4 linked regions of the Homo sapiens genome follow. The protein of the gene in region 1 purifies or fractionates together with the protein of each later gene. This does not show direct contact. Each region holds a gene or a part of one and is shown on either strand. Other genes may lie near its edges. The genes, in order: COP1, TRIB3, ETV4 and CUL4A.

Evidence for each region.
Region 2: the proteins of COP1 (region 1) and TRIB3 purify together in Homo sapiens (affinity purification with mass spectrometry; 7 studies listed by BioGRID and IntAct, with this or other methods). This does not show direct contact.
Region 3: the proteins of COP1 (region 1) and ETV4 purify together in Homo sapiens (affinity purification with mass spectrometry; 5 studies listed by BioGRID and IntAct, with this or other methods). This does not show direct contact.
Region 4: the proteins of COP1 (region 1) and CUL4A purify together in Homo sapiens (affinity purification with western blotting; 9 studies listed by BioGRID and IntAct, with this or other methods). This does not show direct contact.

Annotation. Positions count from the first base shown.
Region 1 is NC_000001.11:176,043,025-176,050,535, reverse strand, and holds part of COP1 (E3 ubiquitin-protein ligase COP1), read left to right. Parts: intron 1-4,211; coding exon 4,212-4,355; intron 4,356-6,717; coding exon 6,718-6,826; intron 6,827-7,268; coding exon 7,269-7,350; intron 7,351-7,511. UniProt on the Homo sapiens protein: E3 ubiquitin-protein ligase that mediates ubiquitination and subsequent proteasomal degradation of target proteins.
Region 2 is NC_000020.11:376,182-384,021, forward strand, and holds the start of TRIB3 (tribbles homolog 3), read left to right. Parts: upstream 1-4,578; 5' UTR 4,579-4,988; intron 4,989-5,113; exon of another isoform or gene 5,114-5,319; intron 5,320-6,251; exon of another isoform or gene 6,252-6,364; coding exon of another isoform or gene 6,365-6,445; intron 6,446-7,840. UniProt on the Homo sapiens protein: Inactive protein kinase which acts as a regulator of the integrated stress response (ISR), a process for adaptation to various stress. Inhibits the transcriptional activity of DDIT3/CHOP and is involved in DDIT3/CHOP-dependent cell death during ER stress.
Region 3 is NC_000017.11:43,536,123-43,543,633, reverse strand, and holds part of ETV4 (ETS translocation variant 4), read left to right. Parts: intron 1-6,859; exon of another isoform or gene 6,860-7,154; coding exon 7,155-7,208; coding exon of another isoform or gene 7,209-7,222; intron 7,223-7,511.
Region 4 is NC_000013.11:113,254,215-113,261,725, forward strand, and holds part of CUL4A (cullin-4A), read left to right. Parts: intron 1-478; coding exon 479-584; intron 585-738; coding exon 739-911; intron 912-6,392; coding exon 6,393-6,545; intron 6,546-7,511. UniProt on the Homo sapiens protein: Core component of multiple cullin-RING-based E3 ubiquitin-protein ligase complexes which mediate the ubiquitination of target proteins. As a scaffold protein may contribute to catalysis through positioning of the substrate and the ubiquitin-conjugating enzyme.

The sequences.
Region 1 (7,511 bases):
ATGGTAATGAATGAGAATGAGACCTTTGACAACTGCTCTTACTTTATATTTTAATTTGATATAAGTTGGGCTCTAGCATCCAGGGACACTAATCCACCATGTTTGTTAATACTTATAATTGCAAAAAGATATGAGAGACATTGGAAACACTGACAAAATTCACTGCTTGGGCTTATTGACGGCTTTCATTGCTTTGTGCCGCATTGTACTGGCAGTATGCATTAATCAGCTGTCCTGTGCAGTTTCTTGCCTTGCTGCTTAATCACTTGACTAATGACATTTTTGACAAAGAATACAGCTAGTTTCCTACAGCTGAATTACGTATTTCAGCTGTTGATATAAATCACTCTTTTAACAGTTGAAATGTTTCAAAATGTGAAAGAAAAATGCAATTTATGTCCCCAGAAACACGATTTTTCAAAAGTATACTTGTATGTTGAAATTAAAAACAAATTCTGTGAAATTGAATTTGTCATGCAGTAAATTTTTATAAATCTCTTGTTTTAATTATTACTGCTGACAGTGGATGGCAGAAATGAACGTTGTATAGCAGTAGTAAGACTTAAAGTTTGTTTTTGAATTTAATTGCATAAGCAACATTTCAGTTAATTAGTTTACCTTTTATTTAGTCTCAGCCTAACTAGTCACTGTTTAACTTTTGAAGTACTTTTGCTTGGGTTATCAGATTTCATAATAAAAGTAGTTGAAATATCATACTGTTAATATAAGAGGTCATCTGTTTTGTATTAGTTCTAGAAAGCTTTCTGCACCTGAAAATTACAGTGTTCATTTCAGTTAGTTCATGATCTGTTTTTAGAATCTCATTATGTTCATGTTTGAGAATATATATGATTAAATATGTCAGAGATAGGGAGCAAATGTTTCAGTATCTAGAAGTCCTTAAATCCTGAGTCTTAGTGATGTGGAAGTTCTTCCACTAAAAAAGGTGGTTTGAGGGGGGGGACCTGTTTGTCTTTCTTTCCCTTTTAATCAAAATTTTCTAGAAATAATATTATTCTTTATACTTTTTGATTAATATTTCTATTAAAATCTATTTTTACAGTATAAAAGGATCTTGTTACCCCCAAAATATTTTTAAAAACATACTCTACAGGTTCTTGATACCTTAATATATTAAAAACAAAACATAACCAAAATGTAAGAAAATAATAGCAATGAAATCAAAACAAAAAGTTAACTTTTTAATATGAGAGTTAAGAGTTAGCTAATGTCACTAAATAATAACATGTAGAAAAAAGAGAGAGAGCTGTCTTGAATAACAGGATACCAGCAGAAGAAATAATAGACATATTTAGGTCATCATCTTAATTCTTTTTTTTTTTTTTTTTTTTTTTTTGAGACGGAGTCTCGCTCTGTTGCCCAGGCCGGACTGCGGACTGCAATGGCGCAATCTCGGCTCACTGCAAGCTCCGCTTCCTGGGTTCACGCCATTCTCCTGCCTCAGCCTCCCGAGTAGCTGGGACTACAGGCGCCCGCCACCGCGCCTGGCTAATTTTTTGTATTTTCAGTAGAGACGGGGTTTCACCTTGTTAGCCAGGATGGTCTCGATCTCCTGACCTCATGATCCACCCGCCTCGGCCTCCCAAAGTGCTGGGATTACAGGCGTGAGCCACCGCGCCCGGCCCTTAATTCTTTTGACAGCATTTTTACTTATGTGTCAGTTTTCTCCCTGTAATGTATTTAAGCTATTATTTTGATAGGTTAGTGTTTAAACGTATTATATATGTTAAAACTAATAGTTTAGTAATGGCATACTTTTACTGGCACAACATTGGAATGGTGTTGATTAGCTATGTATATGAGTAGGCGGAGAAAAAGTATTTAGTGATAACTAGTTCACTTGAAGTCTCAGCTATACCAAAACCTCCTAAATTAAAAACAGGATTTCAGTTCTGATAATAACTCTGTCCTTTACCAGATAAAGTAGTATTTCTCCTTCAGTGACATGAGACTATGGGTATAAATTGAGTTGGGATAGATGAATAGTTGTCATCATTATAGTTATGGTGCATTAAAATCCACATGGCAGCAAGTAGTAGCTGAGGCAGCAGTTCAATTGAGGTTGTACAAATAAATCTACTGCATTGCTATAGTATCATACTTTACTGGAGGGAACATTTGCTGAATTGTGCCCTAGTCAGTGACACTTAACTGAATAAATTTTTTTTTTAAATTGGCTGGGCACCATGTCTGACGCCTGAAATCTGTAATCCCAGCACTTTGGGAGGCTGAGGTGGGAGGATTGCTTGAGCCCTGGAGTTCAAGACCAGCCCAGGCGACATAGTGAGACCCCATCTCTGTAAAAAAAAAAAAAAAAAAGAATTTTAATTCTTTAAAAAATTATATAAAATTAAGGAAGCATTTAAAGCTGTAAAGAAAAGTGGGCGTATCAATGTGTGTCTTTAAGGGAAATAGTCCTTGTTGTTGTTGTAGTTGTTTTTTAAGACAGGGTCTTGCTGTGTCACCCAGGCTGGAGTGCAGTGGCACAGTCATGGCTTACTGCAGCTTCAAATTCCTGGGTTCAAGCAGTCCTCCCACCTCAGCCTCCCAAGTCTCTGGAGACAAGAACCCATCACTATGCCTCACTAATTGTTTCATTTTTTTGTAGCGATCGGGTCTCACTATGTTGCCAGGCTGGTCTCAAACTCCTGGACTCAAGGGATCCTCCCACCTCGGTCTCTCAGAGTGCTGGGATTGCAGGCATGAGCCACCGAACCCAGCCTGAAATATTCTTAATGTGTCTTTTTCTTACTTACCATCATCAGTTCAGCAAGCTTCTTAATAAATCATTAATCATTAACTGTTCTGTGAATGGATATTAAGAAAATGGATGTTTGTATTTTTGTATGTAGGTGTTTGTATTTTGTGCATTAAATGAATGCTTAATAGATACAGAGCACTAGCTAGGCATTTTGAGAGAAGAAACACACATACATAGATATTGAAGATACATTCATACACATAGATTTTAAACCTTTAAACCTTTAGCCTTTACACTTTGAGTTTTACATTAAGAGCTTTGATCTGTAATAAAGCATAGTAATTATTAGCACCAGCTCTGAAACCAGACTACCTTGTGTTTGAATCCCACCTCAGCCACTTACAGATTGACTAACTTTGGGCAATTTACCTCACCTCTAATCTTCATTTTCTCATCTGTAAAATGTAGATAATAATAATACATATATCACAGGTTGTTATGAGGACTAAATGAGGTAATACATGCAAAATGTTTTAGTAAGTGAATGATTAATGAATATTAGGTATTATTGTGTAATTAATTGTAGATCAGTGAGAATTCTTATCGCTAAACCTCTAGAAAAGATGCTTAAATCATATTGAGGAATAATGTATGTGATGATTCATTTCAACTTTTACTACCTTTGGGCTAATTAGATTTCCAGCTGGTTATGTAACAACTGTGTTTAGGCTGCAAGTTCTGTAAAAGCGAGTATGATCTTGTACTTGCTTTCAAATAGCTTGTTTTGGAGCTTATATAAAAATGATCAGCAAGAGAGGAGTGAATAACGCTGAAGGAAAGGAGATTATTTATTTATTTATTTATTTAACCTCTTTTGTGATATGAGGAATGTGTATTGGGGTTTTATAATTCAGAGAGATATTTGGGGAGGGGGATTAGGTATGGATTTGGGGAAAAGTAATGATAATTCAGTGGTTCTGTTATATGTATTCCATCCCCTTGTCATCACCCAATTGCTTCAGTAATTCAAATTATATACTAATTTATTTATTAAAAATAAAATTTAATATTGTGAAATTCTACTACCTCCACAAAATGGCAGGGAAATAAGTAGAATGTATGGAAAAATTAGTTGATAATTGTCTTTTGGCATACTTTTAGTATATCAAATGATTCACGCCATTAAATCTTTCTCAGTAAGCTGTAATATGGTTATTAGAACTGAATGAAAAGCATGTCAGGTGTCTTGGAACAAAAGTACACCTGTGCACAATTGTGTAGATATACAAATGTATATATTAAAAGTTTTATATTACACAAATCTCAACAACTTTTAATTTGATATGTGTTGATTACTTAATCTGGATATGAGGTCTAGTACAATTTGAAGGTATTTAAAGTAGATCTTTTATCCTTGTAGACCGAATTACTTTAGAAATAGAAAATAGCAAATTCTGAAATGTTGTCATTACATACTTTTTCCCCTTAGTATTGAATTTGACCGGGATTGTGACTATTTTGCGATTGCTGGAGTTACAAAGAAGATTAAAGTCTATGAATATGACACTGTCATCCAGGATGCAGTGGATATTCATTACCCTGAGAATGAAATGACCTGCAATTCGAAAATCAGGTATTTACATTATTTTCTTGACATGATGCAGTATAGATGTAACAATTTGCATATGTAATTATCATGAGATTATTTTACCTTTGCATGACACTTTTTACTCATGGTGAACACTATTATTGTACTATGTATACAGAGTATATATTATTACTTATATCATCTTTCTTACAGATATTGGTTGCTTTTTTCTTGTGAGGTTAGCCTTTTTTTTTTTTCTGGTTGCCAAATTAAAGTTCTTCTTTCACTTAATCAAATAAAGGTCTTTGTTGGACATGGTTGTTGGAGACTCTATGGAGTACTGAATGAGGATTAATGTAGCTTATGAATAGTATTTGAACATCAGGAATTTTTCCCCTAGCCTGCACATATCTCAACATATTAGAATTGTTTCTAGTTTTAAGAATTTTTTTTACAAGAATATTCTGCTTTTCACTGAAGGAATGGTGTTTATGTTTTCTGTATTAGAGATTATACTTTATAAGCAGTGCTTTTCAAACCTAAAATACTCTTAAACACTAACAGTATGTTAAGACTCTACTCCTGATCTGCTCCCCAAAAAATCTCAGAAGAATTCTAGAATCTGCTTTTTTTTTTTTTTTTTTCCTTCTAAACAAGCTTCCCAAGCTGTTCTCATGAGCACTGGCTTTAAAAGAGAATTATATGAGGAAATCATCTAATAATAACTTTGTATAGAACTTTGAACATTTTCAAAATAGCCATCCTTGAACCTTTTTTATCTTTAATGAATGGCATACATAGTATGTTTGTTACAGTCTTTGTATAATTTATTTGTTATAACTTTCTTTTTTCTAGTTCATTTATAAAAATACTATATCGATAATTGGTGAGCTTCCCCATTCATTTGTGGCACTCATCATTGAGAATCTGTTATAGTTTATGTCCTAAGTGAAGAGGATATAACATGAATTAGATACAAGTTTATTGAATTCTTATATATCAGGCATTATCCTAAGTGCTTGGTCTTTAGCAGACCTATGAAATAGTTACCATTATTGCTCCATTTTATACAAAGAAAGCTGAGCACAGGAAGGTAAATAACCTGCCTAAGATTATACACCTGCTATATAGAGGAGCCAGGATTCAGACTGAAGTAGTTTGGTTCTAGAGTCTGTGCCCTTAAACATTTCCTGCTCCTTATTTATAAAATGGAGGTCACAATAGTAATACTTATTTAATAGGATTGTACTTTTAAAAAATCCCCATAATGCACTCAGAACAACACTTGGCCCATGGCAAGTACTCATAATATATTACATAATGAAAACGTGGATTAGAAAGTTTAAATGTGCTGTCTACCTGTTCTGTATTTGTATGTGTAAAAATGTGCAATACTTCCTGATATATTGGAATAAATGGTGAAAGCGCTCAAGGCTGAAAGCTGTGGGCCTGGGGCTGAAAGGATCAATACCTAAGGATGCCTAAAATAGATTCGGAGCACATCTACTGTGAAAGTGTACTAAATTAGCCAGAGCCACAGCTAATAAGTAACAGATCTGGAATTTGAACTCAAGTCTACCTAAATTCAAAATGTGTCTCTTAATTGTTCCAGATAATTTCTACCAGAAATTCTAATTAAGTATATTTAAAAATGCAAATAAACTCTTCCAGTCTCTGGAATTTAGCATCAATGCAACTAGTAGAAAGCAAAAGACCTTGTGTTCATGTCTTAGAAGTTACCTACATTAACTGCCTTCTAAGTAACTTCTTCCATAATATGCATTCCCTTTACTATATGCGTGATGCAGATATGTATCTCAGCAGAAGTTTTTAGATGTTGTAGACTTCTGGAGTACTTGAGAATAGCCAAAACCATAAATGATAAAAGTTTGATTCTAACTTTTAGATGCTTTTAATTGGAATTTTAGTCATAAGTTATAATTAGTCAAGTCAAGACTTTTGGGATGTAAATACAGAAACCCAATTCACTGTAGTTTATTTGGCTTATATGATTTGGCACAACTGGATCCAGGGGGTTAAACAGTCTCATCAGGTCTGTCATTCTGCCATGGTATGCCTTGAGCCCTCTGGATAGTATCACCTTCACTGATAGACATCGTTTCCTCATGTATCAAAGATGGCCAGTGATAGCTCTAGGCTCACATCCATCTTAACAGCTAGTGATCACAGTAAAAGGTGGTTAGGGTCATTACTTGTTAATTTTTATTTTTAAAATTTCAAAATTATTGGTATGTCTTTTCCCAGGTATGTTGTGGGCAGAATAATGATTGTGAACTGATAGAGACCATTTTAAAATAGTGCAAATCTTTCTGAACACATTAAAATTATTTTTATCCCATTGTTATTTATTTTTATGTAAAGTAACTTTTAACTGTATTTCTTTCAGCTGTATCAGTTGGAGTAGTTACCATAAGAACCTGTTAGCTAGCAGTGATTATGAAGGCACTGTTATTTTATGGGATGGATTCACAGGACAGAGGTCAAAGGTCTATCAGGTAAATAAGGGTACTAGTTACATGTTATATGAATCATACATTTGGTTTGTTAAAACTTTTAGAACTTCATGTGCCTTATAATTACAGATTTGAAGTCACTATTTAGTATTTTTTATACCTGTGTAACACCTATGCAATACCAAATGCTTTTTTTTCCTGTCTCCCACTTTTGGTACCATATGCTTTTCCAAAGCATTTCTTCAGACTTCGGTCTTTATGGAATGTATCAGGTAAATTTCTAAAAGCAATAATTTTGGTAAATGTATAAAAAGTTTTGGAAGTACTTTATATCAACATCTTATTTGCTTTTCATTTGTTTTCTAGCCTGTTGTCTTTCCCTCTCCCCGTAACAATAAATTGATATCAGGTTTTTTTTTTTCTTGCTTTATTCATTTTGAGATCTGTATTCTATCTGAGGCTACTGTCTTCTTTCTGCTTCCAGGAGCATGAGAAGAGGTGTTGGAGTGTTGACTTTAATTTGATGGATCCTAAACTCTTGGCTTCAGGTTCTGATGATGCAAAAGGTACTGTTTGAATCTCTTTCTCAGCACCTCCTTCTCCCTGGCCCTCTTAACTGTAATTCCTTTCATCGGCAGAAATACAAATATTTACTCAAACTCATGTCAGTCCTTTGTGATTACTGATTATTATTATTCCCCATGTTGTTTTGTTTTGTTTTTTGAGA
Region 2 (7,840 bases), on another chromosome or scaffold:
TTAATTTTGGGAGGTTGGTCACCATTCTTTTCCTCGCTTCTAAATAAATGCTTATATAGCATTTATATTCCAGTCACTTTACAAATATTGTCATTTAATTCTCATGCAAACCAACGAGGTAGGAACTATTGTTATCCCCATTTTACAGATGGGGAAACTGAAGTACAAAGAGCTGAAGTAACTTTTCCAAAATAGATGTGGTTTTGAACCCAAGAAATGTGATACAACTATGACATGAGGCAGTCCCAATGCATTGAATCCTTATGACTGCAATGCAAGGGAGGTATAATTAACTGCATTTTATAGATGCAGAAACTGAGGCTTGAGGCTATTTGGTGTTTCTGGTGTAGATCTAGGAGCCAAACTCCAGCCTACCTAGACTCTTTGCCTCTGCTGTACCCCTGGACCATGTGTTAGGAATTCTTGGTACAGGGTGGTAGTGCTCAATATGGTAGTGGTTTTAGTCTGTTTTCTGTTGCTTATAACAGAATGTCTGAAACTGAACAATTTTGAAAGAAAAGGAATTTATTCCTTACAGCTATGGAGGATAGGAAGTCCAAGATTGAGGGGGCACTTCTGGTGAGGGCCTTATTCCTGGTCTCTGAAGTGTCTGGAGGTGGCACAGGGTATAGCGTGGAGAGGGGACTGGGCATGCTGACATGCTATGCTTTGGTCTCTCTTCCTCTTCTTATAAAGCCACCAGTTCTCCTCCTGTGAAAACCCACAAATCCATTAATCCATGAGTGGGTTAGTCCATTCATAAGGGCAGAGGCTTCATGATCCAATCACTTCTTAAAAGTCCCAACCGCTCAGTACTGCCACATTGGGGGATTAAGTTTCCAGCACATGACATTTGGGGGACACATTTAAACCATAGCAGTAGCCATTTGCCACATGTGGTTATTGAGCACTTCAAGTATGGCTAATGTGGCTAGTGTGACTGAGAATTTTTTATTTTATTGAATATTTTAATTTTTTTTTTTTTTTTTGAGATGGAGTCTCACTCTGTCGCCCAGGTCAGAGTGCAGTGTCATGATCTCGGCTCACTGCAACCTCCGCCTCCCGGGGTCAAGTGATTCTCCTGCCTCAACATCCCGAGTAGCTGGGATTACAGGTGTGTGCCACCATGCCCGGCAAATTTTTGTATTTTTAGTAGAGACAGGGTTTCACTGTGTTAGCCAGGACGATCTTGATCTTCTGACCTCATGATCCACCCACCTCCGCCTCCCAAAGTGCTGGGATTACAGGCATGAGCCACTGCGCCCAGCCTCACATTATATTTCTATTGGAACACAGAATGGTCTAGAGAATTGGGATTTGACAAACCCAGCTGTGACAAGTCACCAAAATTTGGGGGCCATACCCAGGGTGCCGTTCCTGTCACGATACCCATAGGTCCATGTGGAGGCTGCAGGGATACAAAGCTCGTGAAATATCCCAGGATGGCATGGGCACTGGAGTCAGCTGCCCCAAGTTCAAATCTGAAATCAGTCTTTTTGTTTTTTTTTTTTTTTTGAGATGCAGTTTCACTCTTGTTGCCCAAGCTGGAATGCAGTGGCGCAATTGGCTCACTGCAACCTCCGCCTCCTGGGTTCAAGCGATTCTCCTGTCTCAGCCTCCCGAGTAGCTGGGATTACAGGTACATGCCATCACGCCCGGCTAAATTTTTGTATTCTTAGCAGAAACCGGGTTTCACCACCTTAGCCAGGCTGGTCTCCATCTCCTGACTTCAGGTGATCCGCCTGCCTCAGCCTCCCAAAGTGTTGGGATTACAGGCGTGAGCCACCGCGCCCAGCCTGAAATCAGTCTTATACGACCAGCTGGGTGGTCTTGGGTAGGTCCCTTACCTTAACTCTTCTTGTCTGCAGAATGGAGGTGACTTACTGTTTTTCTCTGTCTCCCTTTCACATCTTTGCACTCTTCACCCCTTCTCTTCCCTCAGCTTTTAGTTTAAACATCACCTTTCTGATAAGCCCTGCTGAAAATGGCCACCCTCAGTCATGACGGAGAACAAGTCTTTCCTATTTTATTCAAGAAAATGCATGATGCAATCTATTTTAAATGATCATGGTTTTAATTTTATTTTCCTGATAATGGTCTATCTCTCCACTGATTTATAAGATTTGTAAGAGCAGGGGTGGATCATTCTGGTCACTGCTGAGTCCCCAGCATTTAGAACAGGGGCTGACACAGCACAAAACAACGTTAGTTGGGAATGTACAAGCAAACCCAGCACACCTTCAGAGGGGTGCTCAGGAAACAGCCCTCCCACCTTTCTTCACCCCTCACAGCTGTGGGATCTTCCTAACCATTTCGGTGTCCCAGGATAGAGGATGAGTTTATTCACCCCTCCCCAGCAGGGGAGTTGCCAGGATTAAATGAGATCCCAGAATGCCCTGGTATACCCTGAAGGCTCTGGGACACAGGTGAGCTGGTCCCCAGGGATTTGGAAACAGGAAAACAAATATGACTCCACCCTGCCTCCCATCCAGCCTCTGCCTAGAGGAGTTATTTTATTTTATTTTACTTTTTTTTTTTTTTTGAGACGGAGTCTTGCTCTGTCGCCCAGGCTGGAGTGCAATGGCGCAATCTCAGCTCATTGCAACTCCTGCCTCCTGGGTTCAAGCGATTCTCCTGCCTCAGCCTCCCGAGTAGCTGGGACTACAGGTGTGTTTTTTGTATTTTTAGTAATTTTTTGTACTTTTAGTAGAAACGGGTTTCACCGTGTTAGCCAGGATGGTCTTGATCTCCCGACCTCGTGATCCACCTGCCTCAGCCTCCCAAAGTGCTGGGATTACAGGCATAAGCCACCACGCCCAGCCTCTAGAGGAGTTATTTTACTTACTTACTTATTTATTTATTACACAGGATCTCACTCTGTCACCCAACCTGGAGTGCAGTGGCACAATCACGTTTCACTGTAACCTGAACTCCTGGGCTCAAGTGATCCTCCTACCTCAGCTTCCTAAGTAGCTGGGACCACAAGCTCGTACCACCATGCCCGCTATCTTTTTCTCTTTGTAAAGACAGGGTCTTACTATGTCATCCAGGCTGTTCTCAAACTCCTGGCCTCAAGCAATCCTCCCGTCTTGGCCTCCCAAAGTGCTAGGATTACAGACATGAGCCAGCTCACCCAGCTGAGGAGTTATTTTTTGACACTGGTGAATTCAGATCAAAAGGGATTTCTAAGAAAGGTGCTGGACCCAGGCCGGGCGCGGTGGCTCATGCCTGTAATCTCAGCACTTTGGGAGGCCGAGGCAGGTGGATTATCTGAGGTCAGGAGTTCGAGACCAGCCTGACCAACATGGAGAAACCCTGTCTCTACTAAAAATACAAAATTAGCCAGGCATAGTAGCGCATGCCTGTAATCCCAGCTACTTGGGAGGCTGAGGCAGGAGAATCGCTTGAACCCGGGAGGTGGAGGTTGCAGTGAGCCGAGATCGTGCCATCGCACTCAATCCTGGGCAACGAGTGAAACTCTGCCTCAAAAAAAGAAAAAAAAAGAAAGGTGCTGGACGCCTAGGACGCAGAGGGGTGTTTCACCCCAAATCAAGTAGCACCAAGCCCTCCCAGGCCTTGGGTGCAAGCATATTAAAGGCCTCTTTCCCTCTCTGTCTCCATTGTTTACACTCCACTGAGCATCCGCAATGTGCCACACACTGTTCTAAGCGTCTTACACATATTAAATTATTTAATCCTCACAACAACTTTATGAAGTGAGCGCAATTATGAGCCCATTTTATGGAGCAGGAAGTTGAGGCAGGGTTTTAGGTAGCTTTTCTGGGGTAGCACTGTGGGTTGGAGCGGAGGTGGAGTGCACTCTTAGGCCAGCTGGCTCTAGGGGCTCTTCACCACTAGGCCGCACTGCCTCTAGCAAAGGGACGCGGGGAAGCTCAGCAGACCTTAGGCCTCCCAAGGGCGCCACGGTGGTTCCTTTGAGCCCAGAGTCAGCTCTTAAGTCCATAGGCCTTCCTGAAGCTTCTGAACCACTTGCCCATAGCTGGGCCTCAGGCTGGCTCTCAGTAGAATGTGGAGAATGGAGATTCCCGCATGTCCACTTCTCCTAAAGGTTTTATAAGGCAGTGCTGGGAATGTGCTTTATAAAAAAGGGGAAGCACCCCGACAACAGTCACTGTTTGCTCTTTTAAGCACCATCCTGAGAAGGAGGAATGTTCTTCCCATTTCATAGGTGGGGAAACCGAGGCTCAGAAGAGCAAATTTTTGGCCGGGCGCGGTGGCTCACGCCTGTAATCCCAGCACTTTGGGAGGCCGAGGCGGGTGGATCACGAGGTCAGGAGATCGAGACCATCCTGGCTAACAAGGTGAAACCCCGTCTCTACTAAAAATACAAAAAATTAGCCGGGCGTGGTGCGGGCGCCTGTAGTCCCAGCTACTCGGGAGGCTGAGGCAGGAGAATGGCGTGAACCCGGGAGGCGGAGCTTGCAGTGAGCCGAGATCGCGCCACCGCCCTCCAGCCTGGGCGACAGAGCAAGACTCTGTCTCAAAAAAAAAAAAAAAAAGAGCAAATTTTTTTTCCAAGGTGATAGGGAGAGTCCGTGGCTGATGTCTGCACTGACCAGACGCCCCTAGGGGGCCAGCGAGGGCGGGTCCCAGGTGCAGCGGATGCAGAGGAGAGAGGCCCGGGCGCGGCGCGGGGGATGGTGCGATCCCGGGCCCGAGGGCATCAGACGGCGGCTGATTAGCTCCGGTTTGCATCACCCGGACCGGGGGATTAGCTCCGGTTTGCATCACCCGGACCGGGGGATTAGCTCCGGTTTGCATCACCCGGACCGGGGGCCGGGCGCGCACGAGACTCGCAGCGGAAGTGGAGGCGGCTCCGCGCGCGTCCGCTGCTAGGACCCGGGCAGGGCTGGAGCTGGGCTGGGATCCCGAGCTCGGCAGCAGCGCAGCGGGCCGGCCCACCTGCTGGTGCCCTGGAGGCTCTGAGCCCCGGCGGCGCCCGGGCCCACGCGGAACGACGGGGCGAGGTACTCGGCGGGGTGCGGCCTGCGGACTCGCCCGGAGGCCGGGGGGCGGGAGGGGGCGGCCGGGGAAGGGGGCGCCGGAAGCCTCTGGGCGTCTGCGTGTTGCCGCGTGTTACACGCACGCACGCCCCTTACACACCTTTTCACAGACCCCGCCGTCGGGGCGCGGCCAGGTCAGATCCCTTTTGATCCGGGCCTGGGCTGAGTGCTCCCCCCGGGCTTCAGGTGACGCGGCCCCGCGGAGCGTGGGGTCGCCCGAGTTGGGCTGGGGAAGCCAGGGACGGAGGTGTCCGGCCGTCACCCCTAGAGGAGGGCGTGCGGGGGTCTGTTTTGCGTGAGTGCGGGATAGGGGAGTCGTGTGGTGCGGTGAGGGGCTTGTGGGGGGCACTGGAGGACTCTGGGGGTGGCGGGGGATCCGAGGGGGTCCTCGTGAACCCGCAGGGGAGAGTCCTGGGTGAGGGTGGGTCCCGAGCACCTGTGTCTCAGGAGATGGTGAGAGCTGTCTGGAGGGCTGGGCACTTGGTGGCAGGGGTTGGCGGTGCAGGGGACACCGCCGGGACAGGGCTGGGGTGCCCTGGAGCGGGGGAGCCGAGGGAGTGGGAGCGGGGGCGCAGCGCGCGATCTCTGGCCCGGCAGGGCCGCTGGTTCTCCCCAGTGCGCGGCTCCGGGTTTGCAGGTGGACGGTGCGCGCGTGTCTGCGGTGTGTGCTGTGCCTGCAGACCGGGGAGGGCGGGGGACGACAGCCACCTCCTTCCCTCTGCCTCACCCCCCTCCTGTCCCAGGGCCGCGCTTCAATTTCCGCTGAAACTTCTGACTCGGACACCCGCCGCCTTTCGCTTGGGCTCCCACGGGAGGGGCCTGGCTGCGGGGGGCGGGGCGGGGTGGGGGTGCGGCCTTGCTCGGGTAGACCATGGGTGTGACAGCTGGGAGGGCTGTGTGTGTGTGTGTGTGTGTGTGTGTGCGTGCGCGCGCGCGCTTGCGCTTGATGTAACCCGCCCTCATTTCCCTGGGTCCCGAGTGTGGCAGGGAACAGCAAGAGGTAGATATTAGGGGCTGCTTTCATTCCACATCACAGATTCTATTCTGCAGTGTGGTCTGCAAAATGCCTTGCCCAAGATGTATAGACTCAGTTACCGCATCTGTCCCCATCTGGGTGGAGCTTATCCCAGGCCCCAACAGGCTCTGAGGGATGGCCGGGGCCAAGGCAGCCTGGACTACTGATGTGGCACAGGCCAGAGGGACTCCAGGCAGTCTCCTGCTGCACAGGGCACAAAGCATGTGCACAGCCAGGTATCATCCTGCGTGACTCAGAACAGCCTTGAGATGTAAGGAGTGTCATCCCAGCCTCGAACCTGGGGAGCTTTCTAAGACTCCCAAGGATGGTACTTATGCATCTTGCTGTGAAGAATAACAGGATGAGTGCTAATAATGACCATTTCCTGACACCTACCTGGCAACAGGTCCATAAGCTCTACATGCTTCATTTGTGTTTTCATTTCATCATCACGAAAAACCTGTAAGCTTTGCATCCTGTTCCCACTTTACAGGAACTGAGGCTCAGAAAGCTTGAGGAACTTGACCAGGGGTACCCCCCAGCTAGAAAGGGTTTGAGACAGGATTAGAACCCAGGAATATCTGACTACAGCCACTCCTTACTGCATTCTTACCAAGCCAAAGTCATGACCTTTCACTCATGTGGGGAGGCCTTCCCTTCCAAGGCAGCTCTTCCATTTGGGAGCAGCGTACTTGGAGAGGTGGGCCTCTGTCTGGTAACTGACTCATGTTGCCTTGTTAATCCTGCCTTGAACTGTTGGGAAGGTCTTTAACCAGGCTGAGGTCTCTCGCACCAATGCCCATACCTGGGCATGCACCTCCTTGGAATGGAGTTTAAGTGGGTGGGCAGATGGGTTCTAGAGAGAACCCGTCTGCCCTGACCATGCCCTACTGCCCTCTCCTTCAGCCACCACACACACAGTCACACAGCTGCGTGAATGGTGGCTTTCCTTTCACTTAACAGTTCACTCTGGAGATCCTTCCAATTACCCTATAAAGAGCATCCTCAACCTTTTAAATGGCTGCACATTGTTCCGTTGTGTGGATGAAGTATAATTTATGTAACCAGCCCTGTAATTATAGACAGCCAATTATTTCTGTCAAAAGGGCTGCAGGAATAACTGTGTATTTGCATGCTTACACACACACACCTCTACAGAATAAATTCTTAGCAATGGGATTAATTGCTGAATCAAAGCTCACACGCTTTTCATCGTTGTTTTTGTTTTGTTTTGTTTTGCTTTGTTTTGAGACAGTCTCACTTTGTTGCACAGGCTAGAGTTCCTGACCATGGCTCACTGAAGCCTTTACCTTCTGGGCTCAAGTGATTCCCCTACTTCAACCTCCTGCATGGCTGGGACTACAGCTGTGTGCCATCATGACCAGATAATTTTTTTTTTCTTAGGGACAGGGTCTCGCTACGTTGCCTAGGCTGGTCTTGAACTCCTGGGCTCAAGTGATCTTCCTGCTTCAGCCTCCCAAAGTACTGGGATTACAGGCATGAAGCACTGCACCCAGCCTGTTTTTCATTTTGATATTGTCAAAATGCACTCCTCAGAGGTGGTACCTTTTATCCTCCCACTAGCACTGTCTTCATTGTTAGTGGCTGCACTGCCACTATTCCACAGTATAAACCCACTTTTCATGACACTGCCAAGACATAAGGGTCTGAAATACTTAACAGTTTTCTTCCACAGTCCCCAAAATACAGGCTTCTCCCCCAGCTCAGGACATGAAGCCATCATCCCTCCTCATTGCAGGAGCCAAAGGCTGGACCTCACCTCGATTCCACCCTCTCCTTC
Region 3 (7,511 bases), on another chromosome or scaffold:
CTGGGCTAGAGCTGAAGAATGCAGAGGTGTCAGTTTCCGTGGGCTCTCAAAGACTTCCTTTCCCAGTGCCTGATTTCTCTCTGGCTCACCGGGCTTCATTCCTTGCCTGTCAGCTGAGAGTCCCCACAGTGGGCAGCTCCTAGGGCTGTGAGCTAGGGGTGGGCTGAGGTTGGCATTTTGGCAGCAGCTGGTCCATCTGTGCCTGGGTTTGAGATGGGAGGGGGAGGAAAATGCTCTCATCTCTCTACCTTGGAAGTCCCACCCCTTGGCCAGGGGTCTGGAGAGGGTACAAATGTCTGTCTGTGTCAGTGTCGGTGTGACAGCAAGTGTGTGTGTGAGAGAGAGAGAGAGAGAGAGTGTGTGTGTGTTAGTTACATGCTGCTGCCCTGTACATTTAAATCCAGTGGGTGGGGAGGTGGGGTGGGGATTGCAAGGCGGAGGTGAGGGGGGTGGGCGCTGGGATCTCCTTGGTTCCCTCTCCTTCCTTCTGAGGGAGCAGCTCAGGTTCCCAGCTGGTGATGGATGGCCAGGTCTGAGGGGGGGATGCTGAGGCCGATCGCTCCTTCTCACTTTCTCTGCGGAGACAGATGCAGCTGCCGGGGCCCTGTCCCCCTGCACCATCCCAACACCACCCCAGCCTCCTCTCCTGTCTCTTCCCACCAGGTCAGTGACCCCGGCAACCCATGGGGAGCTTTGGGGTGGCAGGGAGGGACTAGCTTCTTTGGAAACTTGCCAGTGGTGGGACGCATTAGGAGGAAAGGGGACCAGAGCCCAACCTCCCTTTCTCAGTTTGGTTTTTTCCAAAGCCCCAATTTGAAGAGAAGCAGCAGGGGGGTCCTGGTAGTGTGGGTGGGTCTGTGAAGACAGCATTTGGAGGAGGCACAGGTTGGAGCCGGGCAGATACAGGAAGATTCCAGTGTGGTTGCAGGTTCAGTGTCCTGCGTCCGGGCGTTGAAGGGTGAGTGTGAGTGCGGCTTTATGGAGGCAGCTCACATATCCTTGGGGTTGGGTTTTTGTACACAGGGGTGAATGATGTGAGGCTAGGAGGGCGTGTCTGATTTGGGGGTGCCTGGGATCTGTTGAGATGTTGGGGAAAGAATCAGGCTGCTACAGGGAGACCCAGGCTCAGGCAGGCTGAGCCCAATATGTGTCTGGCTATGGTAAAAGATATGCTGGTTTTTTGTCCAAGGTTCCTTTCCAGGCTTGTCAGGAGCCCTGAATCCTTGGGGAAAATGACTTTGTTGTCTATTTGGTAGTAAGGGCCATTGACTCTAGGCCATGACCCCTTTGTGTGAGGCTCAGGTCTGTGGATTCCCAGAAGCCCTATGGATAGGTTGCTGGGATCCTTGATCCCTCTGATACTGTGTGTAAAATTGCTGGAAGTGCACCATACATAAAGGTGTATGGATTTTTTTAGGAAGAGAATGACCCATAGCTTTTATCAGATTCTCAAAGGGATCGATCGATCTGCGCTCCCCTTTTCACAGGAATCACTGCTCCCCAACCCTCCTCCAAGGGCTCCAGTCCCTTTGCCCTTTGGCTGTCCCAATCATATTTGTAGGTCAAAAAAAGACCCCATGTGTGGAGGGCATGCATGGAGGGCACATTTCACCCTGTGCTGTCTTGCTGCTGCAAGAGTGAAGTAAAAGGAATTAGGGTGTGTGCATCCCTGAATATGCGTCCGAGTGCATGTACACTGGTGCCTCGGCATGTCTGTGGGGAGGGATGAGGTTAATCTCCTCCCTAATCTTTCCCAGCTACAATGCCTCCTTCTCCATCTTTCTGTCTCTTCCCCTTCCTGAAGACTCTTGGGGACAAATATGTCCCCTCCACAACTAGTGAACTGGTTCCTTCCAGTACAGAGGCTGCCAGGGTGGGGGCAGGGTAAGGGACAGCGGTGACACAATGGAGCAGAAGCTCTGGAGAATGCCTCTACCCCCTTCACCCTATGACTGGATCCTGGGAAGAGGGTGACCGAGCATATGTAGTGTGGGTGGCTAACCTATGGTGAGCTTCAGTGTATCTCTGTTTTAACCTCTCAGTTCTTCCAGAATCCAGCTTGGGAGACCCCCCAAGCCCCTCCTCTTTTTTTACTAACCCCCCTTTTTGAAAGGAGAGTCCCTAAAATTCTTTCTCTCTCTCTGGGCATTATGCTGTCTTGGCACTTTTCCCACCCCCTCCTTAATCATCTGCCTCGTCCCCAGACAGATAAACTCCATCTTAGTACCGGGATGGAGCTGGGGACAGACCCTGGCACACTGGCTTGGCAGCCAAGACTCAGCCAAGTTAACAAATAAATAAAGAGAGTGGTGTACACTTAAGACGAAACATGGTAATTAAAAATTCTCCTGCTCTCCAGGAACGCGAGGCTCAGTGTTCCTGTTTCTATCCTGTTGACAGTCTCTGGATGACTGAGGGCCCTGGCCTACCCCTTTGGGAGAAGGCCAGTGTTTGGGGGAGGGGCTGAGCTAGGACAGATTTCTCCTGGCTCTGGGAAGAGGATGGCACCACCTCTTTTGGGGTGTGGTCTGTGTGCTGGAGGAAGCCTCCTCCTGGATTCCGGGCCTGGAGGGGTCCCTGGTTAAACTGTCAGGCCCGAGGCAGGAAGAAAGGCAAGATGATGCTGAGGGTTCTCTGCTCTCCAGCACCAGTGACGCCAGCAAGAGATACCCCCAGCCCATTACCTCAATGGAAAGTAGCAGTTAATGAGGCCCCAGGGGTGGGGCCGGAATGCGTCAGCCACCCCTGAGTTCTGCACCACCCTTTCCCTTGGGACCCTTCTTGCCTAGTAGGAGGGAGGGAAATGTTGGTCACTCTGCTCCCATCACCCCAGCTTCCTGCCACCTTGGGGGATGTTGCCTCTGAATGGACCAGAGGGCACAGTGGGGAGCCTGGCTTTGCATCCCTGGGCAGGTGGACAGATTTGGCCTCTTACCCTCTATCCAAATGTGCCTATTTTTAAGGTTGTGGTGGCTGAAGTGAAAGGATTACCTGAGCCCAGGAGTTAGAGGCTGCAGTGAGCTCTGATTGTGCCACTGCACTCAAGCCTGACACAGGAGACTTCCTTATAATAGATTTTAAAATGCAGATGCCTGGGCCCCACCCCAGTCCTATGGAATGGGACTCTCCGGAGGAGGGGACTGGGAATCGTGTTTTTATTTTATTTTTATTATTGTTATTTGAGACAGGGTCTCACTCTGTTGCCCAGGCTGGAGTGCATTGGTGCTATCTTGGCTCACTGCAACCTCCACCTCCTGGGTTCAAGCGATTCTCCTGTCTCAGCCTCCAGAGTAGCTGGGATTACAGGCGAGAACCACCATGCCTGGCTAATTTTTGTATTTTTAGTAGAGATGGGGTTTCGCCACATTGGCCAGGCTGGTGTAGAATTCCAGACCTCAGATCGTCTGCCTGCCTCAGCCTCCCAAAGTGCTGGGATTACAGGCGTGAGCCACCACACCTGGCTGTAATCGTGTTTTTAACAACGTCCTGGTGACTCTTGAATCAGGCCAGTTTGGGAATGGTTGTCTTTTTGCCGTGTTTGTGCTCCTGAAAAGATGTGTGCTGGCTGTGTGTTTCTGTTTGTTCTTGCCAGCGGATTTCATGTCTCATTGATGTCTTTGGTCACTTCAGACCAAAGTATTATTATGTTGACTTGTCCTAAGTTCTCGTTTAGCTGCTGGTGGCTTGTGATTGTTAAACTCCCTCTCCCTAATGCTTCTGTCAAGAAATCAACTATCTATTAATATAAGCCTATGTTTATAAACACTTGGCACCTCTGATATTTAAAGCAAATTGTTGAAGAATATTCTTGCCAAGCAACATATCACAACCTAAAATATCCCCTGTGAGATGTGCTTTCCTGGAGAGGACCTGCCTCTAGTGTTGCCTTGTGTGTGGAGAGGGGGAGCCTGCAGGGAAGGGCTAGGATGGTCAGGATCTCTTCAGTGCATGCCCTCAGGCCCACAGTGCTGACTTCTGCCAGCCTGAGGACAAACGATTATTGCATGTTTATTCATGTAGTCAAGAAATAACAGCACTGAGCGTCTACTCTAACCCTGTGCTGGGTGCTGGGGCATCAGATGACAAAAAAGATAAAGCTCTTGCCCTCACAGAGCTTAACTTCCTGGTGGAGGAGATAGGTAGATAACAAACAGGTAAACATAAATTAATATATTCAGGTGGCAATATGTGCCAGGGAGAAAACAAAACATAGATGCAATAGAGAGCCAGGAGGAACCACTTTGGTTTAGGGGTGGTCAGAGAAGGCCTCTCCAGAGATGTCAAAGTGAGCTGAGACTCTGATGGTCAGGAAAAAAAGAAAAAGGCAAGAAAGCATCTGGGGAAGAAGGAACAAGCTCAGCAGCTTTGAGGGCTAGAAAGGAGACCAGAGTGCTGCAGATTCACAGGCAAGGAGAGGCAGGTCAGAGAGGTAGGCAAGGCCAAGTCATGCAGAGCCTTGGAGGCCAAGGGCAAGCGTTTGGATTTCATGCTTTAAATAACAGAGAGAAATGATTTTATTTCTGTTGTAAAAAGATCACTGTGACACCTAGGTGGAGAGCAAGGGACCATAGGAGGTAAGAATGAAAATAGGGTATCCTGGTAAGAGGCCGTGGGTGAAATCCAAGTAAGAAATGATGGAGCCTTAGCCTAGAGAGAAGCAAAAGAGATGGGATATGTATTTGTATAGGCCGGGGGTGTGGAGGTTTTTTCTAGCCATCTCATACCCCTCACCAGCCATTTTGACCTCTCTGGGCATTTTATCAGTTTCCCCATTGTCCAATCTGAGAGCAGTCTCCAGGGAAGGAGAGAGCAGTCTCCAGGGAAGGAGAGTCCAGCCTCCTCGGGCTACAGGTTCCACTGCATCACCCTAGAACCACTCTCTTCCTGGAATAATATCAGGAAGTTCTTCTTGGTGTCTACATTTCCTGCTGTGATCCATTTATTTTTGAGAGAGGGGCAAAAGTGGGCCAAGACTCTGGGATCAAGGGAGATTCTTAGCTGTATAACCACCTGAGAAGCCCCGCTCTGGGGAGGCCAGAATAAGAACTAGAAATCAGAGTTTGATGTTCAGGTTAGAAGCCATGGATGAGCTGCTGCTGTATTTCAGTTTTCCTGCCTATTCCCCAACCCAGCTCCACCCATCCTGGCATCCTGGGAGAGCTCTTCGGATCACCAACCTTGGGAATCCCTCCCCTCCTTAGCTGCACATTAAGGGGATGAGGCACCTATGTACTCAGCCAGTGTCCTTTGCCTTCTGCAGTGGTCCCAGTCACCAGCCTCCTGCTCTCCCACTGTCATCCTCCTTTTTTATTTTATTTATTTATTTTTGAGATGGAGTCTTGCTCTGTCGCCAGGCTGGAGTGCAGTGGTGTGATCTCAGCTCACTGCAACCTCCACCTCCCGGGTTCAAGTTATTCTCCTGTCTCAGCCTCCGGAATAGTTGGGATTACAGGCGTGCCACCACGTCCAGCTAATTTTTTTTTTTTTTTTTTTGAAATGGAGTCTTGCTCTGTCACCCAGGCTGGAGTGCAGTGGCCTGATCTTGGCTCACTACAAGCTCCGCCTCCCAGGTTCACGCCATTCTCTTGCCTCAGGCATACTCCTGCCTCAGGATTAGCTGGGACTACAGGCACCCGCCACCACACCCGGCTAATTTTTTTTGTATTTTTAGTAGAGACAGGGTTTCACTGTGTTAGCCAGGATGGTCCTGATCTCCTGACCTGGTGATCTGCCCGCCTCAGCCTCCCAAAGTGCTGGGATTACAGGCGTGAGCCACCGCGCCCGGCCTAATTTTTGTATTTTTAGTAGAGACAGGATTTCACCATGCTGGTCAGGCTGGTCTCAAACTCCTGACCTCGTGATCCGCCCACCACGGCCTCCCAAAGTGCTGGGATTACAGGCATGAGCCACCATGCCCGGCCTTTATTTTTCATTTTTTGGAACAGAGTCTCACTTTGTCACCCAGGCTGGAGTGCAGTGGCATGATCTCAGCTGACTGCAACCTCTGCCTCCTGGGTTCAAGCAATTCTCCTGCCTCAGCCTTCCGAGTAGCTGGGATTACAGGTGCCCACCGCCACGCCTGACTAATTTTTTAATTTTTTAGTAGAGATGGGAGTTTCACTTTGTTGGCCAGGCTGGTCTCAAACTCCTGATCTCAAGTGATCCTCCCACCTCAGCCTCCCAAAGTGCTGGGATTACAGGCATGAACCACTGCGCCCAGCCACCCCCCTATGTGATTTTATTTATTATTTAATTTTATTTTTCTTTTGAGATGGAGTTTCACTCTTGTTGCCCAGGCTGGAGTGCAGTGGTGCGATCTCAGCTCACTGCAACCTCTGCCTCCCAGGTTCAAGCGATTCTTCTGTCTCAGCTCCTGAGTAGCTGGGATTATAGGCTCCCGCCAACACGACCAGCTAAGTTTTGTACTTTTAGTAAAGATGGGGTTTCGTCATGTTGGCCAGGCTGGTCTCGAACTCCGGACCTCAGGTGATCCACCCGCCTTGACTTCCCAAAGTGCTGGGATTATAGGCGTGAGCCACCATGCCTGGCCGCCTCCTATGTGATTTTTAAATCCACAGGATCCCACTGCTTATAATGCCTGCCCATCCTAGATATGACTGTTGTGAGCTTTAAGGGAGTTTTGTAAACTCTGAGGGGCGAGGCTGTTTCACTTCAGAAAAATGGAGGAAATAAAGACAAAGCATCTAGAAGAAGAAAGACTGGAATCTGCTCAGACAGGTTCTGAGAACAGTCTTCCCTCCTGGGTCTTAGTGGAGCCCAGAGGTGGAAGACACTAGGACCTAGGGTGGAGCAGCCTTTAGTCTCAAGCAAGCTTGTCCAACCCGTGGGCCTGTGGGCCACTTTCAGCCCAGGGTAGCTTTGAATGCGGCCCAGGCCCAACATAAATTCCTTGTAAAATTTCTTAAAACATTATGAGATTTGTTTGTGATTTTAAGTTCATCAGCTATCGTTAGTGTTAGTGTATTTGTGTATTTTATGTGTGGCCCAAGACAATTCTTACAATGTGGACACCCCTGATCTAAAGGCTGTTGGTCCTTTCTTGGCTGTTGCTAATCTGCAGGGCTGTAATAATGGAGCCTCCCAGGGGACAACCAGGGCTCCGCCCCAAACTCACCTCTGACTTCTCTCTGCAGCTCAGGTACCAGACAGTGATGAGCAGTTTGTTCCTGATTTCCATTCAGAAAACCGTGAGTAGAGGTCCCTGGGGAGAGGGTATAGGGAGTGGAGGATGGCAGGAAGTGAGTCATAGGATAGAGAATCACAAGAGAGCAGCTTGTTCTCTCCTAAAACACAGTGGGGTTTGATCTTAAAGACCAAGGCAATAACTGGAATGAAAACCTTGGTTGAAATCTGGGGCTTGACATGTTCTTGCTGTGTGACCTTAGAGCAGACACTATCCCTCTGGTTCTCCATTGCCTTATATCTGAAGTGAGGGGCCTGGGCCAGTTCAGCAGAGTCCAGTTCTAGTGTTGTTTGTTTGTTTGTTTGTT
Region 4 (7,511 bases), on another chromosome or scaffold:
GAGGCATGTGGCAAGTTGCTGCAGCACTAACTCCTGAATAGAAAAGGAGATCATCCTGGGATATATAAGGCCAAATTGCATTCACCCCTACGTTACAGTCAGTCCCGTATAAAAGAAAGCTGGACTGTAATCCCAGTACCTGGGGAGGCCGAGGTGGGTGGATCACAAGGTCAGGAGATCGAGACCATCCTGGCTAACACAGTGGAACTCCATCTCTACTAAAAATACAAAAAATTAGCCGGGCTTGGTAGGCACCAGTAGTCCCAGCTACTCGGGAGGCTGAGGCAGGAGAATGGCATGATTCCGGGAGGTGGGGCTTGCAGTGAGCTGAGATTGTGCCACTGCACTCCAGCCTGGGTGACAGAGCGAGACTCCTTCTCAAAAAAAAAAAAGTTTGAGAGCAAAAAGAAGCTTCTTTTAATTTTTCAAAGATTGTACATGCACAGCTTCAGAGGTGTGATGAGGCCTTCTCTTCCAGGGGAAGAAGGAATTCCAGGTGTCCCTCTTCCAGACACTGGTGCTCCTCATGTTCAACGAGGGAGATGGCTTCAGCTTTGAGGAGATAAAAATGGCCACGGGGATAGGTACGAAAACTGCAGAGTGCATAGCTCCATGAGTTGTTCTTAAAGCATGTATTTGTTTTAAGATAAGACATAGACTTGGTAGCATGATTGGTTTACTGTTGTTGAGTCTCATTCGTTTAACGCCAGCCTTTGCCTGCATTTGCTTCCCATTCAGAGGATAGTGAATTGCGCAGAACGCTGCAGTCCCTGGCCTGTGGCAAAGCACGTGTGCTGATTAAAAGTCCCAAAGGAAAGGAAGTGGAAGATGGAGACAAGTTCATTTTTAATGGAGAGTTCAAGCACAAGTTGTTTAGAATAAAGATCAATCAAATTCAGATGAAGGAAACTGTATGTATAAACTTTCTCTTTTTACTTATAGGGGGTTTAGCAGGGAATCATTTGTTTTTGTAGTAATGTTTTTGGCTGTTAGAGGCCTGAAGCACATTTCTACAATAATCCAATTTCACTATGTAATGTTTATAAGAGTACTCATTTTCCTGTCGCTTTCATTAACTTCACATTCTCAGTAGGAAAGAAAATCAGAAAAAAAGCCACTTAATGTTATTCCTATTCACAAAAAAGTTGTGTGCTAAGCCAGAACTCCCCATGGTCATAGGGTTTCGAAAATTATCCACACTTTCTATGGTAATAGAATCTGATATGGTTCACTCTTGGTGTTGTACATTCTGTGGGTCTGGGTAAATGTATAATGTTATGTATCCACCATTATAGGATCATACAGGACAGTTTCATTGCCCTAAAAATTCTCTTATGTTCTGTCGCTGTATCCCTGTCTCCCTCCGAGCCCCTGGCAACCCCTGACCCTGTTACTGTCACCATAGTTTTGCCCTTTCCTGAATGCCGTACAGTTGGAGTCATAGTGTATATAGCCTTTTCAGATTGGCTTCTTTATTTATTAGAACGTATTTGAGGTTCACCGTGTCTTTTCATGACTGGGTAACTCTGCTTTTTGCACTGAAGGATTCTCCGTTGTCTGGATGCATCACAACTTATCCCTTCACCTACTGAAGGACATCTGGTTGTTTCCAAGTTTTGGTGATGATGACTAAAGCTGCTATAAACATTTCTGTGCAGGTTTTTATGTGGACTTAAGTTTTTAACTCCTTTGAGGGTGCACCTTTTATAGTGGGCAAAAGTGAGAAGGTCTATCAGTTCTTTCTCCCGAAGGTAACCACTACTGCCCTTTTTGTTTGTGGTCACAGCCTTTTTCTGTGGTGTGAGTGTATGTAAACTTTTTTTTTAGTGGGATCACTAAGCCAGGCACAGTGACATGCACCCATAGTCTCAGCTACTCGGGAGGGTCGCTTGATCCCGGGAGTTTGAGGCCAGCCTGAGCAATGCAGTGAGACCCCAAACTCTACAAAAGAAAAAACACCTGGGATCACTGTACATATGGCACCTGTCAGGGCCTTCCTGTAGCCAGTTTTCGTTGCTGATCGCAGTCTTCTCCTGGCCAGGACTTGTTGCAGGAGCACAGTGCCGGTTGTGTAGACCCACCAGGGCTGGCAGTGCCCTCGGCCACAGGCACTAACATTCCTCCACTGCCCCTCCTGAAAATAAGATTACGTTCAACACCCTGGCACAGACATTTCTGTGCACTTGTTAGATTGTTTCTTTAGTGTGATTCTTGCTCTGGAGCTGCTGGGTAAAATAATGTGTACTTGTCTTAGTTTGCTCTTTTCCAAGTTGAAGTCTGGCAGATTTCACCAGAGCACAGTGTCTGCCCCCACCTCCACCTGTCCTTCGCTCACCCTGTTCTGAGCAGCCCAAAGATAGTTTGTTGCAGTTTTCATTTTGATTTCTGATTCTTTACAGCATCTTTCTACCACTCAGTAGTTTATACAAATTATATAATCTTTCTAATGCTCAGTTTCTCATATTTAAAATAGACATACTACTACCTCAAGTTGTGAGAATTAAATGAATCGTTTAGAAAGCTCTTTGCCACACACCTGTAAGCACTTCATACATGTTGATGCTGCTCTTTTTATGCTTAGCCATTTGTATTTTTCTTTTTCTAATTGCTTTTCAAGTCATATGCATTCATTATAATGTTTTTTCTCTTACTGATTAGTAGGTTTTCTTTATATATTAAGGATATTAATGCTTTGTCCCTTTTTTTTTTTCGTTTTTTTTTTTTTTTTTTTTTTTGCATTTCACTCTGTCGTCCAGGCTGGAGTGCAGTGGTACAATCTCGCTCACTGCAACCTCCGTCCTCCGGGTTCAAGCGATTCTCCTGTCTCAGCCTCTCGAGTAGCTGGGACTACAGGCATGTGCCACCACACTCAACTAAGTTTTCTATTTTTAGTAGAGACGGGGTTTCACCATGTTGGCCAGGCTGGTCTCAAACTCCTGACCTCAGGTGAGTCACCCATCTCGGCCTCCCAAAATGCTGAGATTACAGGCGTGAGCCACCATGCCCAGCCTGCTTTGTCATTTTTGACAGATAATTTTGTTGTTTTTATTGGTTTTTTTTTCACATAACAGTTTTTAAGTTCTCAAATATAGTCTCCTTTTCTTTTATGGTTTCTGACTTAACGTGTAATGCTGTATTAGGCCATTCTTGTATTACTATAAGGAAATACCTGAAACTGGGTAATTTATAAAGAAGAGAAGTTTAATTGGCTCACGGTTCTGCAGGCTGTACAGGAAGCATGGTGCCAGCATCACCTCAGCTTCTGACGAGGCCTCAGGAAGTTTCCAGTCATGGTGGAAGGTGCAAGGGGAGCAGGTGTCTCACGTGGCAAAAGCATGAGCAAGAACAGGGAGGGAGGTGCCCCACATGTTTAAACGACCAGATCTCATCACCAAGGGGAGGGCCCAAGCCATTCATGAGGGACCTGCCCCCACCCACCCGGTCCCATCTCCAACACTGGAGACCACATTTCAGCATGAGATTTTGAGGGGACACATATTCAAAACCATATCATTGGCCTAAGAGAGAAATTCCCTTAACCAGAGTTTTAAAAAACATTTATACTATGTTATTTTTCTAGAAGTTTTTACATTTAAATCTTTCTTTTCATGTTGCAGAAATTATTTTAGTATCTGAAAACAGTCTAACTGCCCCCATCCTTTCCAAAACCAAATTTAAAATATCATCCTTGAACAAGTTATTTGAATTATCACCTTATTATGTATCAAATTCATATAGGTCAGTTTCTCAATTCTCTTCTATAAATTCTGTGTCTATTTCATAGCCAGCCATTTTTTTTGTTTTGTTTTGTTTTGTTTTTTGAGACAGTGTCGCCCAGGCTGGAGTGCAGTGGTGTGATCATAGCTCACTGCAGCCTCAACCTCTTGGGCTCAAGCGATCCTCCCACCTCAGCCCCAGGCATATGCCACCACGCCCAGCTAAATTTTTGTATTTTTTGTAGAGATGAGGCCTTGCCATGTTACCCAGGCTGGTCTTGAACTCCTGGGCTCAAGCAGTCTTCCTACCTTGACCCCCCAAAGTGCTGGGATTACAGCCGTGAGCCACCGTGCCCGGCACCAGGTTCTTTTAATTAATGTAGCTATTCCTATAACTTTATTCTTCCAATGAACTTGACAATAATTGTATCACGCCTTTGCTCCCCCAAATAAGAACATTGACATTTTTAATCCATATTGCATTAATTTACAGAGCTTTTATCTTTATCATATTAAATCTTGTGATTCATACATATGTGTATATATGTAAATACATACAAATCTTTTTCTCAGAGCTTTCTAGTTTTCTTCTGTAAGTCTTGCATATTTCTTGCTAGTCATAAATTTTCATTCATTCAACAAATACTTATTGAGCATCTGTGGTGGCCCAGGTCCTCTGTGAAGCACTGAGAATTCATCCATTAACAATAAAGAATAAGTCCTTGTTTCTAGGAGTGTTCAGTCTTTTCCAGCAGAGAGGTAGCAGAGGATCACACACATTGACTAACTTGTAAGAGTGGAGGAAAATGTTAGGATAGAGAAGTGCAGGAGAGTCTAATTAAATACTGTCGTCAGCCAACGCTTTCCTGAAGAAGTGACTAGCTTTGCTCAGGAACTGAAAGAAGGCCTCTGGCTGCAGCATCGTTGCCAAAAGGGGAAGCTGAGCCAGACAGGCCTGATCAGGGAGCCACAGCTGGACCCTCTGAAGATGGCTCAGATCCATGAAGCATTTGGAAAACCACTAGAGTTTTAAGCAAGACAGGCTAATGAAATGCTGATATCTTATAAAGGGGACCTTTTTTCTTTACATTTCTGACGGTTTTTATCAGAATGTATGTATTAATGCTATTTGTCTTTGTATATTTATTTTATTTCCAGCCACTTTACAAAACTCTTTAGCTTTGAAAGTTTTTCTGTTGATTTTCTTGGATTTTCCAGCTCATCTACAAATAATGATCGTTTTGTCTGCACCTTTTCAATATACCTCTTTAGTCTGTTCCTGTATTGCATAGTTAGAACCTCTAAAGTAATGTTTTTAAGGAATAGCAGTGCAGCTGAGCTTCCTAATTTTATCTCTAGTTCAGAGGATGTTAACTTTTTGGGGGTCATGGATCCTGTTGAAAATGTGATGAAAGCTTGGAGTCTCTCCCATCCTGAAGCATACTTGCCTCATATGTATGCACAGACCTTCCCCCAGCCCTCATTTCAACTGCAGATCCCCATCAGGTTCCTGTTGGACTAAGGTTAAGTTGTCTCTAGTATTTGCTGTTTGTTTCTGATAACCATGTTTTATCATGTTCAGATGCTTTTTTATTCATCCTTGTATGCTAATGTTTGTTTTAAATCAAAAAATCAATTTTATCATGCCTTTTCAGCATCTATCAAGATGGTCATGTAATCTAACCTTTCAACTGCTACAGTGCTCTCACTTATATTCACAGATTTCCTAATGTTGATCAACACTTAACATTTCTGGAATATATCCTGATGGTCATTATGTTTTGTTTACTGTGCTGCTAGTTTTAATCTACATCACACATAGAGTTGTTGCAGCTTTCTTATAAGGAAAATAACTTTTAAAAATATTTTTTAAGTTTTGGTTTTGGAGTTTTGCTATTCTGGGAAGGTACCTTTTACTACAACAAGTAAACATGCATAATAAAGTAGGATTCATCCAATGTCTGACCTTTCTTTGCATCAAAAGAACATTTCCGGCCAGGCACGGTGGCTCACGCCTGTAATCCCAGCACTTTGGGAGGCCGAGCCAGGTGGATCACGAGGTCAGGAGATCGAGACCAGCCTGGCTAACATGGTGAAACCCTGTCTCTACTAAAAATACAAAAATGAGCCGGGCATGGTGGGGGGGCACCGTAGTCCCAGCTACTTGAGAGGCTGAGACAGGAGAATGGCGTGAACCCGGGGGGCGGAGCTTGTAGTGAGCCGAGATCGCGCCACTGCACTCCAGCCTGGGTGACAGAGTGAGACTCCGTCTCAAAAAAAAAAAAAAAACCATTTCCCATCAAATTCGGTAACATCAGGTCATTAATATTGAAATATAGGCCAGGTGTGGTAGCTCACACCTGTAATCCCAGCACTTTGGGAGGCCAAGGTGGGCGGATCATCTGAGGTCAGGAGTTCAAAACCAGCCTGGCCAACATAGTGAAACCCTGCCTGTACAAAAATACAAAAAGTAGCCGGGCATGACAGCAGGTGCCTGTGATCCCAGCTACTCGGGAGGCTGAGGCAAGAGAATCGCTTGATCCTGGGAGGCGGAGGTTGCAGTGAGCCGAGATCACACCATTGCACTCTAGCCCAGGCAACTGAGTGAGACTCCATCGCAAAAAATAAAAAGAAAATACAGTTTTACACTTAACTTTTTTTTTCTTTTTTATACAGGTTGAGGAACAGGTTAGCACCACTGAGAGAGTGTTTCAGGATAGACAATATCAGATTGATGCTGCTATCGTCAGAATAATGAAGATGAGAAAGACTCTTGGTCATAATCTTCTAGTTTCTGAATTATATAATCAGCTGAAATTTCCAGTAAAGGTAAATGTAACATTAGCATAATTAAATTTGTAGTATTTGCTAAACAATTGACAAAGCATGTTTAATTCTATGTTCAGTCATATCATTTGACCTGCATTATTCATGGTGCTTTGTGTATACACTGAATGTAGAAAAACTGGCAAATGTGAAGCTCTTTATTCCAGGTGTTGCTCATTGCCACTGCAGAAATGATAGAGCCCTAAAACTCTCCTTCCCAGGGATGGTGCGCGCTTGTTCATATTTTCAGGAAGGGAAGAGGTAGATGGGACATGGAAAGCTGAACACTTTTCTCATAGTAGTAGCGGTCAAGGTTACATCACAAGATTTTAAGGAAATGATAACAATAACTAACTTACTCAGCGTTTACAGCCTACACCGCGTTTTCCACCACGGTAATAGTCTACTGTTGCTGTTGCTTATGAAAGTCAGCCCAGGCCTGTCAACCCGCGTTGTTTTCAGAACTGAGATTTACTGTCCTGCCACGTGTGGGATGCAGGATAAGCCGGGAAAGTATTATGAAACGTTTTTTACATGTATTTATCAACCCAGGAAATACTGAACTCTGATGACGCCTGGCCTCTCAGGGACAGGACCGGCCACACGTGCTTTGGAGGGAAAGTCCCCAGATTCCATGTTGTGCAGTTTGAGCCTCCCATTCCATCAAGGGAATAAAGTTGAGATGCACTAAATAGTCGAACACTTAAGAGTCTGGTGGAAGTGCCACTGTCCATCAGCCCACATTTGCCCCCTTCCCTGCAGAGGTGAGGTGCCGTCCTCAGGGCCCTGGGAAGCTCCAAAAGCACCATCAGGTTCACTGCCCCTTCCTCCCACCAGCTGGAGCAAGTCTCCTGTTGCCACTGCAAACAATCAGGCCCAGCGCGAAGCAGAGGTGAGCAAGAGTGGAGTGTGGCAGACCAGGGCACCTGCTCTGCTCTCGGGTAGAGAGTGGCAGACCAGGGCGCCCAC